3 separate regions of the Homo sapiens genome follow, and all the other regions are linked to region 1. Evidence: fine-mapped expression QTL. A gene starts in region 1. Each other region holds a variant in brackets. All regions are shown on one strand. Distances are from middle to middle.

Region 1 (5,626 bases):
TAGCAGTCAAGAATCACTGCTGCCATGCTGGCCAACACTGGAAGGACAAAACCTCAAGACACTACACACAGCCCCACAGTCAACAACTAGCTGTTAAGTTTTCCCATTAGATCTTGCCACAAAGTTTTGAATCTAAATGTGTTACCTTACAGCTCATATTTCTTGTTTCTTCATATTGTATGAATGTTTTGAAAGACTTGGTCAAATTCCTTGGAATTCTTTTCATCATTATCAAAGAATAAGGGAAATTTCCTGAAATGTTTGCCTTGAGTAGCAAATTTCTAGTGATGCCACTACCAGGAATCACATAAAGAGCTCAAAAGTTCTGTTAATACAGAGTGAAAAAAGCTCAACATTCCAGGTTAGCATTGACTTAAAATCATGTCTTAGTGATGAGGGAGGCTTTCACTTTCTGAATGACAGGAGGCAAGTTGCTTCATCTTTCTATGTGGGGAGACAGAAGATTTCTCAATTCTATAGGCTTATGAATAATATACCCCTTGTCCACCTTGTCTTCCATACCCACATCTCTAATATTAAGAAAATAACCTGCTCCCCCACAAAAATATCCTCAATATTCACCACTTCCAAATGGCTTCTCCCTGCAATTCACCAATTTCAAATGGCTTCTCCCTGCAAACAGGCTGTGGACAGTAAGAGATACCATGCCTAGTTACATAAGTATATCACTGCAAAATATAGAAACATCACTTATAATGAAAGTAATACTGTTTCAGAGTTCTAAAACAAGCATTTTCTTCCCCTCACAAAATATCACATTTCCATTTCCACAGTTGTGATGCTTTTCATTTACCCATGACGTTAAGCTCATCTTTAGCTCTTCTTCATTATGTGGGTCTGTGTTCTAGCTTTTACCTCAGTAGCAGTTTTTGTTTGCAGGAAAAAAGGAACTCTTTTGGTAGTCACTGTTTGTAATTGCGGCCTTGATATTCTAAGCCATTGAGTCACAATTAATAATTAGAAATTCTTACTAACTTTGCCCATATATTACCTATGAAGCAGTAGCCGTAGGAATGCAATTTTCCTGTAAATCCCTCCCTCTTATACAGCTCTAGTTCATTATTTAAAAGATTCAGGGTGAATTCAAGTAATTTCCTATGCTGCTATCATTTGCTTAAAGACCTTTTGCAATGGGTCTTATGTAAGAAGAAATGCAGGAGTTGCTTTGGTGAGGTTTATTTAAAGAAACCATTAAGTGCAAGACAGACCTGAAGAGCAGCATCAGTTGTGTATGGGGAAACAGGAGCTATGAATGCGTCACTTCATTTAGGTTGACAGAAAGAGGGCTAATACTTGAAAAAAATCCCTACACGATCTGGTGCCAGGCTACTTCTTTGGCCTCACCTCTTACCACTGCCCCCTCCTTCCGTGTCCTCCAGCCACAGTGACCTCTTTCCTGATCCTTGAACTTGCCAAACACTTTCCCTTCTCAAGGTCTTTGCCTTCAGGAGTCCCTCTGCCTGAAATTCTTTTCCCAGATAGTCATGGGACTGGTTCATTCTCATCCTTCAGATCTCTGCTCAAATGTCACTTATTCTAGGAAATCGTTCCTGGCCACCGTAAAATAGCACACCCCCTCCTCACTTTCTACTCCTTTTCTTTGTTATTATGTATATGGCAGCAGAAAACTATGCATTTTCTTAGTGGCAATTACACACCCCGCACATTATGCATTTAAAGCGTTGTTTGTTGTTTTGTCGCTTCCATCAGAATACAATCCAGTAGGGCAAGGAGTGTGTGGGGTCGTGTTCACCTGGTATCTCTGGGGACCTACAGCCCGGCACCTAGTAGACACTCAGTAAATATTTGAATGAATGAATGAGGCCCTTTGGCAGCCGGGAAGCCCGTCACAGCCGTTGTCTCCACCCTCTCCCGGGCTACACCAGGCCACGCCGGTAAAGTTGTTTCTCCTCTAGGAGAAACATTCGCTAGGCCTTGTTGCCAACCCGCAGGCGGCTGGGCGCTTCATCCCACCCTCACCCCTTTCCAGCCAAGGTGGCTGATGGGAGTCAGGCTCTCGAGGGCGCATTGCCACGAAACAGCGTGTGTGAGCGCGTTGTCCCCGGCCCCCGGCGCCACTTCCCCTCGGCCTAGCAGCCTGGACTGGGGAAGGACGGGTCTGCTGTACCCGGGAGGTGGAAGGAAAAGCCGAAAGCGGAGAAGTGTGCGGGAGGGGAGTCTCCGCGCGGAGGCAGCCCGGCCTCCTCCAGTGCAGGCTGCGCGCTGGGGAGCCAGCCAGGGTGAGTCACTCCCGGCCGCTTCCCTGGAGGGCGGCGGCCACACACACACCCGCCCATCTAGTGAGGGCCGGGCCCAGCGCTGGCGCCTAGCTCCAGCCGGGCACCAGCGTTTCGCGAGGCGCCGCCGCCTTAACTTCCTTGCGCGCTCACGCCCAGGGGCCGTCCCAGGAATCTCCACGCGCGCTCGCCGGCTTCCCGAGAGGCAGCTGCCCTGCGTGGCCCGCGCCTGCCGGTCCCGCGACCAGCACCGAGCGGCGCACGCGCACTGCAGGACGCGCGTCCGGCTCTCCCCCAGCCTCTATCCGGCCCGGTCTCCTGCCATTCGGGGAGACTGCAGGCCAACCGGGAGGCTGAGTTCGAAGCTAGCAGGGCGGCGAAGCCAGTGTCGCCCGCGGCGTTGAGAAGACGGTGTGGCCCCGGAGAGGGTGGAGACAACTGTGACGGGCTTCCCGGCTGCCCGAAGTGGGAGTGGTGTGGGGCTGCAGGAAGGAGAGAGGAAGAGGAGCAGAAGGGGGCAGCAGCGGACGCCGCTAACGGCCTCCCTCGGCGCTGACAGGCTGGGCCGGCGCCCGGCTCGCTTGGGTGTTCGCGTCGCCACTTCGGCTTCTCGGCCGGTCGGGCCCCTCGGCCCGGGCTTGCGGCGCGCGTCGGGGCTGAGGGCTGCTGCGGCGCAGGGAGAGGCCTGGTCCTCGCTGCCGAGGGATGTGAGTGGGAGCTGAGCCCACACTGGAGGGCCCCCGAGGGCCCAGCCTGGAGGTCGTTCAGAGCCGTGCCCGTCCCGGGGCTTCGCAGACCTTGACCCGCCGGGTAGGAGCCGCCCCTGCGGGCTCGAGGGCGCGCTCTGGTCGCCCGATCTGTGTAGCCGGTGGGTGTTATCTCTGCCTGGCTTCTGGGTGGGGGGCAGCAGCTGTCTCTCCACCCCCTTCCTACCTTTTGGTCCCGCCTGCCCCCTGCTAGTGGCAGCAAACTTCTGAGCCAGAAAAATCTTCCTCTTTAAGACGACACCTAGAACGAGTCTTGCTGGTGATATTTGCTTCCATTTGTGTCTTATAATTCCCTCGCTCCCGCCTCCTTATTCCTTTTTAAAATTTTCTAGACACTTAAACAGCCTAGAAAAAGCATTTGTTTCCCCTGGATTTATGTGGTAGTAGTTAACTGCTGCTTCTGTTTTTAGGTTTCAGAAGCAGGCAACAGGAACAAGATGTGAACTGTTTCTCTTCTGCAGAAAAAGAGGCTCTTCCTCCTCCTCCCGCGACGGTGGGTGTGCTGTCCTTTATCGCTGCAGTAAAGGCGAAGGTGTCTGGAGCTGGGAGTGCGTGCGTAGGGAAGGTTGGAAGCGTGTGAAGAGAGGCAGGGCTCATTGTTGCTTACTCTTCTGAAAATGTCAGTGCTAAACTTTTAATGTTGATCTGGGAGAGTAATTTTGGGGTGTTTTGTTGTTCGTCTTGGATCCTTTAAGAAACATTTTTTTGTTGGCTTTACACATAACGTGACTTTGCAGAGAAACGAAAAACGTTGTCCATTACCCTTTCTTCTTAAGCAGCCAGAGATTCTTAATCCTTTAAAGAGGAGTATTTCCAAGCAATAAGAGATAGCTTTTGGGAGAACACGTTAGCTATTCTTGCTGGGGTTTCTGCTACCACATTGAATGTTTCCTCATGGTTTTATCTGCCTAAGCTTGCTGTGTCGGTTGAATTTACCCAGTTTGTTTTCCAGTAATTACTAATCTGTTAGGAGAAACTCCATTTCTCTGAATGAAAGGGTAGGAGCGGCTGAGTATGGAGAAGGAAACTGGAAGTGGGAATAAGGGAAATGATTGCTTTTGGTTTCATAATAAGTTTGTACAGTGAGTTGTTGGGCTACTGCAAATAAAGATTTTGTATCCCTTCTCCAGAATGCTTGGGACCAAAAGTGTTTTGGATTTTTTTTAAAAATTTTGGAATGTTTGCATATACAAAATCAGACATCTTGAGGATGGGACCCAAGTGTAAATACGAAATTCGTTTGTTTCATATAGACCTTATTCACACAGCCACTAAGTCATTTGCAATATTTTTAATACGTCTGTGCATGAAACAAAGTTTGTATTAAGTACCTATGCGGGGAATTTTCCCCTTGTAGCATCATGTTGGTGCTCAAAATGTTTCAGATTTTGCAGCTTTTCAGATAAGGGATGATCAGCTTGTATTTTGATATAACACCCAGAACATTTGAAGATGAATAATCAATTTTTGGCCTCCCTTCCCCCATCCGCCTCACCTTATACCACTTTAAGTGTGAGAATTATTTGCTTGTACATGCATTTGTCTGTTGGTGTGTAACGTATGTACAGACTGGATGTATCCAGCACTTGCCTTAATAGTACATGTATTTACCTGAATAGGAAAGCTGCAGTACTTGCTGGCCAGAAGAGCACACCATGCTTGTTTTTGCTCTAACTGAATATCCTGTATTTGCAATTTATAGCAGTTTTAGGGACTCATTAGGGAATTTTGTGTGTGTGTGCCTTTGGTGATTTGAGACAGGTGTCTCAGATATGGGAAGGGAATATGACATTGTTTCTCTTTCACCTGGCTATTACTGAAAGGTGGGATGCTTTTGAGGCAGAATAGGAAAGTGCATTGGCTTTGGAGTGAGATCTGGATTTGAATCCTGGTGTTCTTGCCACTTAAGAGTTGCATTATTTACGGCTGGTCATGGTGGCTCACGCCTGTAATCCCAGCACTTTGGGAGGCTGAGGAAGGAGGATCACTTGAGGTGAGGAGCTTGAGACCAGCCTGGCCAACATGGTGAAACCCCATCTCTACTAAAAATACAAAAATTAGCCGGGCGTGGTGGTGCACACCTGTAATCCCAGCTACTCGGGAGGGTGAGGCAGGAGAATTGCTTGAACCTGGGAAGTGGTGGTTGCAGTGAGCCGAGATCTCACCACTGCACTCCAGGCTGGGCAACACAGCAAGACTCTGTCTAAAAAAAAAAAAAAAAAGAAAGAAAAAAAGAGTTATATTATTTACGACTCTTTTAGCTTCACTTTCTTATAAGATTGTTGTGAGAAGTGAGTAAGACACATGCAAAGTGGTAAACTGCCTGGCTGTCATAAAAGTCTTGGCTACTATCACGGCTGGGAGGCAAAGGAGATTCAGAGAAGGGCAGAATGACTGCATAAGGTGATCTGCCTGTAACTCGTGTTTCCTCCTTTCTAGTATAAAGAGATAAAGGACTTCAAGGTCTTAAACTGGTGAGGGAGTATTACAGCCTTTGTATGGAAAGGTTTGACTTTGTGTCTCTGCTTAAACCCCCATTGTGTTGCCCCTACCAATTATTGTGCTGCCCCCTTGTGGTTAACTGTGCTAAGACCTTTCTTT
Region 2 (5,000 bases), 94 kb after region 1:
TGTTTATATAATTCCCTATTTTCCACTAGTAATGCAGATTAAATACACATCTACACTTGTATGACATTTTTTCATATCTTTGAAAATTGATAATCTTCTCAAAAGCAGTGGTTTGGAACCTGTTATATGGAGGTATCTGAGAGGCTCCTGTGGACCATGAAGGAATCCAGGATTGTTTTTGGAAGCCAACACTTGTTTTTCTGGCAAAATATGTTTTATATATTTTTTTAAAAAAGTTTTAAAGATAAAGCAGCGCAAAACATTTCTGTATTTTTTGCAGAATTAAAAGATTAAATGGAGCTAGAACTCAAATTCTCCTTTATGTCTATAGTACTATAGACAATTGTTAGTAATTTTTGTGTGTAGAAGAACTTCAGGAAGGTTTGAATGTCTAAAAAGTTATGTGGAAGAGAAATTGAGAAATTTTCATTTATTTTTAAAAACCAGCCATAATTCAGTACTAATATATAAAGGTGTGCTGGTATATTATATATTATACATTTATGTTATATATAATAATATATAATTGTTTAGACTCCTACTCTTGCTGTTGTAAGTAAACTAAAAACCAAAAATATAATGCTGTGTATCCATTAAGTTTTCTTTAAAGTTGTGAGTTTTGCCAATTTAATTTCTTTACCTATAATGGTCACATGTAAGTATAAAGATTTAAATTACATATATTTAATTATATTTATACTTAAGCCTTATTATTATTACTTATATTTTAATGCAGATATTCTGGTTCAGGAGTTTGTAAAATTTGGATCACTAGATACATATCTGAAAAAGAATAAAAATTGTATAAATATATTATGGAAACTTGAAGTTGCTAAACAGTTGGCATGGGCCATGCATTTTCTAGTAAGTAGTACAACCTTTTTATCAAAAGATACTATTTTATTTTATAAAACAATATACAAATTATCTTTACCTGGAAACAAAAAATAAATCTGTAATTGGATGCCAATTCATGTAAAATAGTCTGTGTTAGGTGATAAAAAGAGATTACTTTAGGCATATGTTTATGTATGTAAAATCACTTTTGAAAAAAAAGTTTTGTCATCCCATCAATATCTTAGAACTACTAATAGACAATCTGTATGTTGTGTCTTTTGGATTTAGAAAATTCAACCAAAAATTATGCAGAAGTATGTGCTTCTGTATTTTTGGGCCATTGTACATTATGGTCCATGAGAAAGCGGTGTTGACAGAGAAGAATACCAGGGGGACTGCCAGTCATCAGACCCCTCAGGGTGCACCTATGTCCTGCTGCAGAACTGAAGTAGTATTTCTTAATGTCAGCTCCCATCCAGAAACACAAACCATGTCAGCCTTAGAACTCATGTGAAATGGCATTGGTAGTTTTAATTTATTCATTTCATCACAAGCATAGATTATTGTGTTATTTAAAATGTAAAACAGGAAGCATAGGAGTCATAAATTTCCTTTTTTCTCAATGCATGCCTCCAAATTATTATACTATCATGTATTTTTCTTCTTTAAATCTGTTTTGGGGGCTTGAACATACTAAATGCTCCAGTACTTGTGGACTGATATTTGAATATATGTGCGTTTAACTCTAATAGGAAGAAAACACCCTTATTCATGGGAATGTATGTGCCAAAAATATTCTGCTTATCAGAGAAGAAGACAGGAAGACAGGAAATCCTCCTTTCATCAAACTTAGTGATCCTGGCATTAGTATTACAGTTTTGCCAAAGGACAGTAAGTTCTAGAAGGATTATATATAATGTTACTAAGCTTTACTTGGGCAGTGGTGTAAAGGGCATGTTGTTAATTTTCCTTGAATTCCATTTAATTTGTATGTTCCTGATTAATAATAAAATTATCACTTTTAGCAATTTAAATTGTTAGTTAAATCTTAGTCTCTATTTTTCTTTCTTATAAGCATATAACCATGGACTGTGAGGTGATTTTTTAAAAACAGTTTTAATCTCTAATTATGTATGAAGGATAGGATTTTATCCATTTTTAGTATGAAGTTTTGTAATATTCCTTGAGCCACAAGTAAATTTTCTAAATATTCTTTTCTTCTCGTCACTAAATAAAAATTTAGCCTGAGATTTTAGGATTTTTTTCTATCCTCTGTGAAGAAATTAGTTTAATTATCCAGCTAATTCTGACTTTTTAAAACCTTAAAAAAACTTTGATTTGTGTTTGTTCATCTTTACTACTTAACACAGTGGGTTAAAAATACAAATTTCAGTCAGATAGTTGAGAGGGGTTTTTTGGGTCTAGATAATTATAACTGAATTTTGTTATCTTAGATAATTTCTCTAATTGGATGTTCTAAATTTAGATTCTAAATTGATCAATTTTTGTGCACTGATGTGTCCTATTTAAGCTAATAGTACTTAAACTTAATGACTTATCTGACAGTGAAGACAGTGATAACTGGGCAGTAGTACAGGAGTAGGGAGTATGGCAGAAAATTCTTACAGGGTCTTACATCTGGTATCCTGGAAAATTTTATCCTTTGGAAT[C/G]GGAAGTGAAGATGGAAAAAAATGTATTCATATGGTGAAGGTATTTGTCAATCAATCTATTTGTCTGTCTGTCTATGTCAGAATACCAGAAAGTAGGGTTATATTGCTTCTTCCTTTCTTGAATACAGTCCTTCTGGTGGAATCAAAGACCACAGAAACTTTACTTGAGAAATTCCGTGATTTGAGCAGAGCCCACCTATATCAATTCCATATATCTAGAATATTTTGGTGCAATTTAGCCTTCCATCTGCCATAAATGCTTGTTGGTCCTTGGGTTTTTTTTTTTATCTGCAAGTGGGAATTGCCATGGCTATTAAATCATTAGAACATCTCTGAATGATGTAACATTACCTTTACTACTTACGCATTATGAAGAAATACCAAAAAGTATCATGGGGCAATTTTAGGATAAACTATATAAAAAAAAAAGATTTGGCCAGGTGCAGTGGCTCATGCCTGTAATTCCAATGCTTTGGGAGGCTGATTGCTTCCTAAAGCGCTTGGGTGGATCACTTAAGCCCAAGAGGTCAAAGCATAGTGAGCTGCAATCGTGCCATTGCACTCTAGCCTGAGTGACACAGTGACACCCTGTCTCAAAAAAAAAATTTTTTTTTTTTGAAGGTAAAACTAATGGAAAGAGGTTGAGAAAATGGTATGCCAGTTGAGACACTATGGTTTAATGGAAAGATTAGTTGATTCAGAACTCACTGTACAGGATTCTAATTCTGTCTCTGCTGCTAACAAATTGTGTGGCTTTGGGCAGATTACTCAATCATATGTCTCCATGTTGTCATTGTTAAAGATGAAATATTGAATTAGATGATCTTGAAGGTCCCTTCTGGTTCTTAAGCTTATGCAGTCATGTGCATGTGCACATCCAACCCCTCCAAAATAAAGAAAATAGGCCTGATTATTCAAATGATTTGAACTTTAAAGCTATTTACATATAAAAGATTGGTTTACTTGTGAATTATTTAACCCTACTCTGTTCGTATCATTTAAAAGTTCTTCAGGAGAGAATACCATGGGTACCACCTGAATGCATTGAAAATCCTAAAAATTTAAATTTGGCAACAGACAAATGGAGTTTTGGTACCACTTTGTGGGAAATCTGCAGTGGAGGAGATAAACCTCTAAGTGCTCTGGATTCTCAAAGAGTAAGTTTATATAGACTAAGTTAGAATTACTCTATCTCTGAACTTTCATATTTCTTTCACATGATTTGTATTTTTTAGCCCATCTAATTTTAAAAAGAAGGTTGGTGTGGCATTACACAATTTATTCTCAGTTTGTGGTTCTTTAATTATAGAAGCTACAATTTTATGAAGATAGGCATCAGCTTCCTGCACCAAAGTGGGCAGAATTAGCAAACCTTATAAATAATTGTATGGATTATGAACCAGATTTCAGGCCTTCTTTCAGAGCCATCATACGAGATCTTAACAGTTTGTTTACTCCAGGTATGTATTTGAATGATCTTATTGATTTTCCAGCTTTCTATCTTTATTGTATTTAATGAATCATTACTAATTTTTAATTCCTTTAAAACATTTTCTTGATGTCATTTGGGCCCTCTTAATTTCTTATGTTCATATGGCTTTTCATGCTTTATACATATTCTAATCTCCTTGACTGAGAATTATTTTCATTTTTATAAAAAGACCTTTTCTTTTTTTTTTTTTTTTTTTTTGAGATGGAGTCTTACTCTGTCGCCCAGGCTGGAGTGCAGTGGCGCGATCTCGGCTCACTGCAAGCTCCACCTCCAAGGTTCACGCCATTCTCCTGCCTCAGCCTCCTGAGTAGCTGGGACTACAGGCGCCCGCCACCACACCCGGCTAATTTTTTGTATTTTTAGTAGAGACGGGGTTTCACCGTGTTAGCCAGGATGGTCTCGATCTCCTGATCTTGTGATCCGCCCGCCTCGGCCTCCCAAAGTGCTGGGATTACAGGCTTGAGCCACCGCTCCCAGCCAAAAAGACCTTTTCTTTCAGTAACCTAATTTTAGTTTTCCATTTAGTGAGTTGTAAATTATAGTATTTTTTTTTTGCTTAAATTGACTTTTAAAAAACAATTCTCTTTAACATTTCTCATATTTTATAATTGATTGATTCTCTAAACATGAGCTGTATTTGTTTTGCTTTGTTCTCTCCTTTTTCAAAATACTGAGCTGAAATGCATGTGTTTGACCTATAGGTGCTTTCTACCCCAGTACTACTCACCTTTCTCACAATAAGTATCAGTATATTACCTTACTTTATGAATACTAAAACTTCTTATTTTGGAAAACAAAATTTTATCCTTTGCAAAGTCTCTCTTGAAGGCCTGTCAGATTATGGGTAATGATTAAAGGCTCCCATTAATATAATTGAAACTATTTGAGTTTCCCTGTATCATTTAGTATTTTTAACTCACGATTATTTTGGTCAACTTGAATGTATATCAGTTTAGTCCAGAGAATGTTATTTGCTAATTTAAGGTGATAATATTCTTTAT
Region 3 (5,626 bases), 46 kb before region 1:
TTTAATGGTCAAAGAAGATATTTCTGAGTTCAAAACTCAGTTTTAAAGTAGAGTTTGGTAAAGTAGGGACATTTTGCTTTTTGGACATGGCTTTCTCCCTCAGCCTATTTTTGGAGCATGAGATCTTGTGGGCCTAAGTTCTGCATTCACCACATCTCTCCTGAAACCCCTGACTTCCCCTCTGCTACCATCACCCAGGGATCCCCCTTCCCACTCCTGTAACACTTTATGTCTGCTGCTCTACAGTACTTACCACACATCTCCCTCCCACCTGTATCAGATGGTCCTATGGGTAGAAAAATGTCTTATATCTTAGTAGTCCAATGTACCTGGGATGTAGTAAATGTCAGAGTCCGAAACTGTCTTATTTTCCAGATTTGGGCTTTGTAATAAAGGCCTTTTGAAGATAATGCCTAGGTCTTTGATATGTAATTTTAGGTAAAAAGAAAACTGAAGGAATGACTCTAATGGTAGAGGTTTCCGGCTGGAAAAGAGGATAGTGTTATTAGAGTCTGTGGGTAATTTGGGGGACAGAATGGTCTTCCTGGTAGTCCTTGAATCATACAAAGTCAATGATAGTTAGCTTGGTGTACCTGCTTGTTAAGATGGGCCTGGACAATGCTCTGACTTGTTGGGAAATAAGTAGAGTGAACAACAGTGTCTGTTTGTCTGGGACTGTCCCCATGTTAGCATGGAAAGTTCCATATCTTGGGAAACCCCCAGTCCTGGGCAAACCAGAGCACTGGTCACCCCATACAATCCAAATATACAGTGGAGTATGGCCTCTTAACTGTCACATTAACGTGCTGATAACTTGGACTCTAGTACTTGTAGGGAAAAGATAAATCTTCAAATAAGTAAACAACTAGCCCAGTTTGGGAGGATGTCAGTTCTGCTTTCTCATTAAGATAAGGCAATCTTAAAATCATTAGAGAACTCACAAATGTGGCTATAAAAATAACAACAGTTACATAATTAGATTTCCTTGGCTGAAACCACTAATAAGACATTGCCAAATTTTAGCTTATTGTTGAAGATAAATCTCTCTCACCCATTCTCTCTCTCTCTTACACACACACGTGCACACACACACACACAATTTTTATTTTTCTGGCTTAGCATACTTTTATTTTAATTATAGGTTTTATCGTTTTTCACCATGTTAACAGAACAAAGTTGGTTTGTTGTTGAAGGATATGATTTAAATGGATAGCTATTGCTGTGGTTTACTGAAAGCACAATACTGCATTATTTTGAAAATATGTTTAATGAAGCATATTTTCATTTAAAGCATACCTGTACTTAATGGAAATTTTTGAGATCCATCATTTCTAAAGATGAAGAGAAGAGGCTGTGTAGCCACCAAATGCTTGCTGGCCCTCTAACGCCTAAAGTGCTACATTTATTTATTATAAGAATATAGAGATAATAAGACTGTTTATGAATTACAAATCAATAATGAAATAACTCTTGGGCTAAGGACAAAATCAAATGGAAATTATAAATCACATAAATATGAATGGGCACAGAAGCATTACTCTACAAAATCTGTGGGGTATGGTCAACATGTTGTTCAGAGGGAAATCTATAGCTTTCAATGTCCATATCAGAAAAGAAGAGACATGGAGAATAAATTAACCAAACTTTCAAATCAAAATTTAACTTCCTAATTCAACCATCAAACAAACAAACAAACAAACAAACAAACAAATAAAACACAAAGTAAAGAGAATGGAAAAAAATGTAATGGCAGGAAATAATGTGATAGAAAAGGATAATAGAGGCTGCTGAACTTGAGGAAATCCTCCTTTTACACAACAAGGATGTCAGCTGCCCAGACTCTGACTTGGAGACTCACCTCCCAGCCCAAGGAATATGCGTTATGAGAGTAAGAAATACATGATTACACCTCTGCATGGATGACTGCAAAGGGGACAATAATAACTAACAATAAGACCCATGTGTCAAGCATTATGCCAGGCAGCTTATATAAATTATATGGTTTAGTTGTATTTCTTCCTCATTTTCTGATAAGAATATTGAAACACAGGATGGCCTAGTAATTTCCTCAATACTGAGGGACAGTAATTAATGTAGCTGGAACTTGAACTTCAGAAGGGTTATTAAGTGGGGTTTAATTTACCACATGTTGTTAAAGATGCCATTGGCTTTAGAAACATCTTGTTTTGAAAATTCGTATCTGTTTGGGAAGATCATGATACTATCAGTCGGTCATGCTTTAGAGTGAAATGGTTCAAACAGATTGCTTTCCTTTCAACAGCTAGCTGAGGTTAGCTGTGTTAAGAGAATGGGAGTTTTGAAGTGGTTAAAGAGAAAGAAGTAATGCAGGAGTGGCACTGCTTAGAGGCTAACACCCCCATCGGAATACTGGGCAGCTGGTAAGCAAAAGTACAGAAAGGGAAGTGAGAAGATGCCAAAGATAAACTCTATTTCAAAATTCTGACTATGGTCAGCCCCACCCTCAAGAAGAGAGGGACAGGTTCTTCCTCTTTTTCTGTCCTGTACAAAGCAATCTCCTATTCCCAGGACCAGGAAGTTCAGGTCCAAGGGCCACTCTAAGGAAAATAGAGTTGGAAGGGACTTTAGGGGTCCTATCCAGTCTACTCACCACAAGGCCTCCCACACCCTCCTGCATGAATCCTCCAAACTCCTCCTGACCATCTTTGCATCTTTGTTGCTCCTTTGTTGTCTATTTGGGGCTCGAGTTAGTTGTTAGAAATTCCTTTCTATCAGCCAACAATCTTATCTCCCTTCAACTTCCCCTCATTTGTCTTATATCTGCCCCTGGAATTGCCCAGTCTGTGTGGTATTTGTTCCAATGGAATTTGATCTGTCATATACTGTTGCTTTTGGCTGATTTGCTAAATTGACTGGATCTCTCTCTAAACTCAATGATTTGGATCAAGGTAAATGCTGGTAAAATGTGCCAGCAATTTCTTTTTCAGAAAGATCTTGCTATTGCTCTGTTACTTTTGTTTGTTTGTTT[T/G]TTTTTAAAGAATGTTCCCAATAGATTCATTTTGAGGGAATAGATTCACCTATGAATCCATGGAGTGACCCACACAAAACACCTACATAAAAAAGAAACAAAAAGAGTATGTTTTCTTACTGACAAACACTACTTGAAAGCTCTTCAAGTCCTTCGTGGTATAATAAAGTAAATAGATATTGAGAAGAAGAGATCATCTAGTTAACAAACATGGAAAAATGTTCCACCTCACTTTTAATTTTAAAAGTGATAAGATACCCCTTCCATTCATTTGGCTACAAAGCATAGCAACATTTATAATAATATTTAATGTTTGTTAGTACTATAGTACATTACCAGTAGAATTAGAAACGTCTTTTAGAAATTGATTTAGCTATATGTATTGAGATCTTTTAGTTTTATTTATTTAGTAATTTTTAGAGGCAGGGTCTTGCTATGTCGCCCAAGCTGTTCTTGAACTCCTGAGCTCAAGGGATCCTTTTGCTTCAGTCTCCCAAGTAAGTAGAATGACAGGTGCAAGCCACTGCACCTGGCTATCAGGAGATTTTAAAATATTCTCATCCTTTCACCTAGTAGAATCTCCTGGGTATTTGTACTAAGGAAATAATCCAGAGATTAAAAAAATATGCCTACGGTTTGCACTTCTCACAGGAAAATTATTCATAATAGTGAAAAATTAGTCACAGCCTAAAATCTAACAACAGGAAATAGTTTAACTAGATTATGGTGCATCCACTCAATGGAAGATTATACAGCCATTTCAAATAACGATTATGAAAAAAACATTATATGTAATCTATATTGTCCTAGTGGAAATATCTTAGGTAAGTCAATGGTAGCGAATCAGAAAAATATTGAGACTCAGTAGTTTTTAGCCACATGAAAAATTCTTGCAGTATATAAAAAACAATGTATACAAAGAAATGCACCAAAATTATTATTATGACAGAAAAAGGGTGGGAGAAGTGTTTTTATATTTAATCAAGAGCTGTACTGTATAACTGAATTGTTTGCCAGCGGAGCAGAAGGCAGATGGCTTGGTTAAACTCACACATTCTTGCCCACTCCAGCTATTTTTATAAGGCTCTTACGGTTTTAGGATTTTCTTACATTTTTGTTGATTCTTGTACTCTATTTACTTCTTCTCCAACTTCATTATGGAATATTATCTAGTGTTTATTATTTGTCTGGGGTCCCCATTGATATTAGCAAAAAACACTGGTCATTGGGTTGTACTTGATTATTTGAGTCTTCAAAGCTCCTTGTCATTGCATATTGCGGGACTGAGAGTTAATATAAGGATATGATTCTATCAATCAATTTTCACAGATATATATGTCACTGAACACGAAATATGGGATATATTAGTCAGCTATTGTTACAATGCTGAGTAATAAACAGCTCCAAAACTCAGTGGCTCATAAAAATAAGCCTTTATTTTCCTTGTTCATGAGCCTGTGGATGATCTGGGATGCTCTGCTTCTTTTGCAGGACAGCTGGGCTTATATCAAAGCCTCAAGTTGGGATCAGGCCTGCTTCACATGTTCCCAAATCCCATTAGCTATCTGAGGCATATTCTTCTCCTGGTGGATTATGAAAGGCAAGAGGCCAAGTCAGGAGAATTGCTTGAACCCAAGAGGCAGAGACTGCAGTGAGCCGAGATTGTGCCACTGCACTCCAGTCTGGGTGACAGAGTAAGACCCTGTCTAAAAAAAAAAAAAAAAAAAAAAAAAAAGAGGCCAAGTCAAACTACTTAAGGCCTATGCTCATGTGTGCTATCATTTAATTGATCAAACCAAATCACATATGTAATTATGCCCAACATCAATGAGAGAGGGAAATAACTCCCATTAGAAGTTCACCTGACAGAAGGAGGGGGTAAAGAATTGAGAGCAATGATCTAATGTACCATAGGGACAATGTACAAACAGATTAATTTAAATAATTGGAAAGAAATACCTACTGACTTGCAGAATAGGTAGGATTATCTCCATGTGTGAAAAATATCCTATTTTTCGATTAGACTAATGAAAACTTAATAAAATAGTTGTTACCATATATTTCTTTTAAAGAATATGCAGTATCAATATATTTTAAGGACAGCTAAACATCCTGGGTGTTTAGCCAAGTAGAAACTGGTCCAGCTTTGACTATCCTGGGTGTTTAGCCAAGTAGAAACTGGTCTAGTTGTAAGTGGATTTTTTTGTTGTTGTTTATTCTTGGGGACCGAGTCTCGCTTGGTCACCCAGGCTGGAGTGCAGTGGTGCGATCTTGGTTCACTCCAACTTCTGCCTCTGGGGTTCAAGAAATTCTTGCGCCTCAGCCTCCCTAGTAGCTGGGACTACAGGTGTGTGCCACTACACCTAACTATTTTTTTTATTTTTATTTTTTGTATTTTTAGTAGAGATGGGGTTTCACCATGTTGGCCAGGCTGGTCTTGAACTCTTGACCTCAAGTGATCCACCCGCCTTGGCCTCTCAAAGTGCTGGGATTACAGGCATGAGCCACTGTTCCCGGCCTGTAGGTGGATTTCTGGCTTTGGGTTACACACACACACTTGTTTATAGGAGTTTGTAAGTAGGGAGTAAAATGTACTCTGAAAGGAAATCACTTGATAGG

What was found. PIP is the estimated chance that this variant, and not a neighbour inherited with it, causes the effect.
Region 2: its variant is the best candidate, but not a certain one, in a credible set for the expression of JAK2 in whole blood (TOPMed, PIP 0.68).
Region 3: its variant is the best candidate, but not a certain one, in a credible set for the expression of JAK2 in whole blood (TOPMed, PIP 0.86).

Annotation. Positions count from the first base shown.
Region 1 is chr9:4,982,505-4,988,130 of GRCh38, forward strand. It overlaps JAK2 (Janus kinase 2), which reads left to right and starts at 2,768. Exons shown (of 25, transcript NM_004972.4): 1 at 2,768-3,126; 2 at 3,436-3,518. RefSeq lists silencers at 721-850, 2,301-2,350, 2,391-2,470, 2,861-3,190 and enhancers at 1,819-2,652, 2,581-2,720, 3,521-3,570.
Region 2 is chr9:5,076,717-5,081,716 of GRCh38, forward strand. It overlaps JAK2 (Janus kinase 2), which reads left to right. Exons shown (of 25, transcript NM_004972.4): 15 at 737-864; 16 at 1,590-1,728; 17 at 3,513-3,664; 18 at 3,817-3,967. It also overlaps a transcript of INSL6 not described here. Among named protein-coding and RNA genes, the nearest start is that of JAK2, 94 kb to the left of the region's middle. The variant C/G (reference allele first, on the strand shown) is at 2,508.
Region 3 is chr9:4,936,847-4,942,472 of GRCh38, forward strand. No RefSeq gene overlaps it. Among named protein-coding and RNA genes, the nearest start is that of JAK2, 46 kb to the right of the region's middle. The variant T/G (reference allele first, on the strand shown) is at 3,008.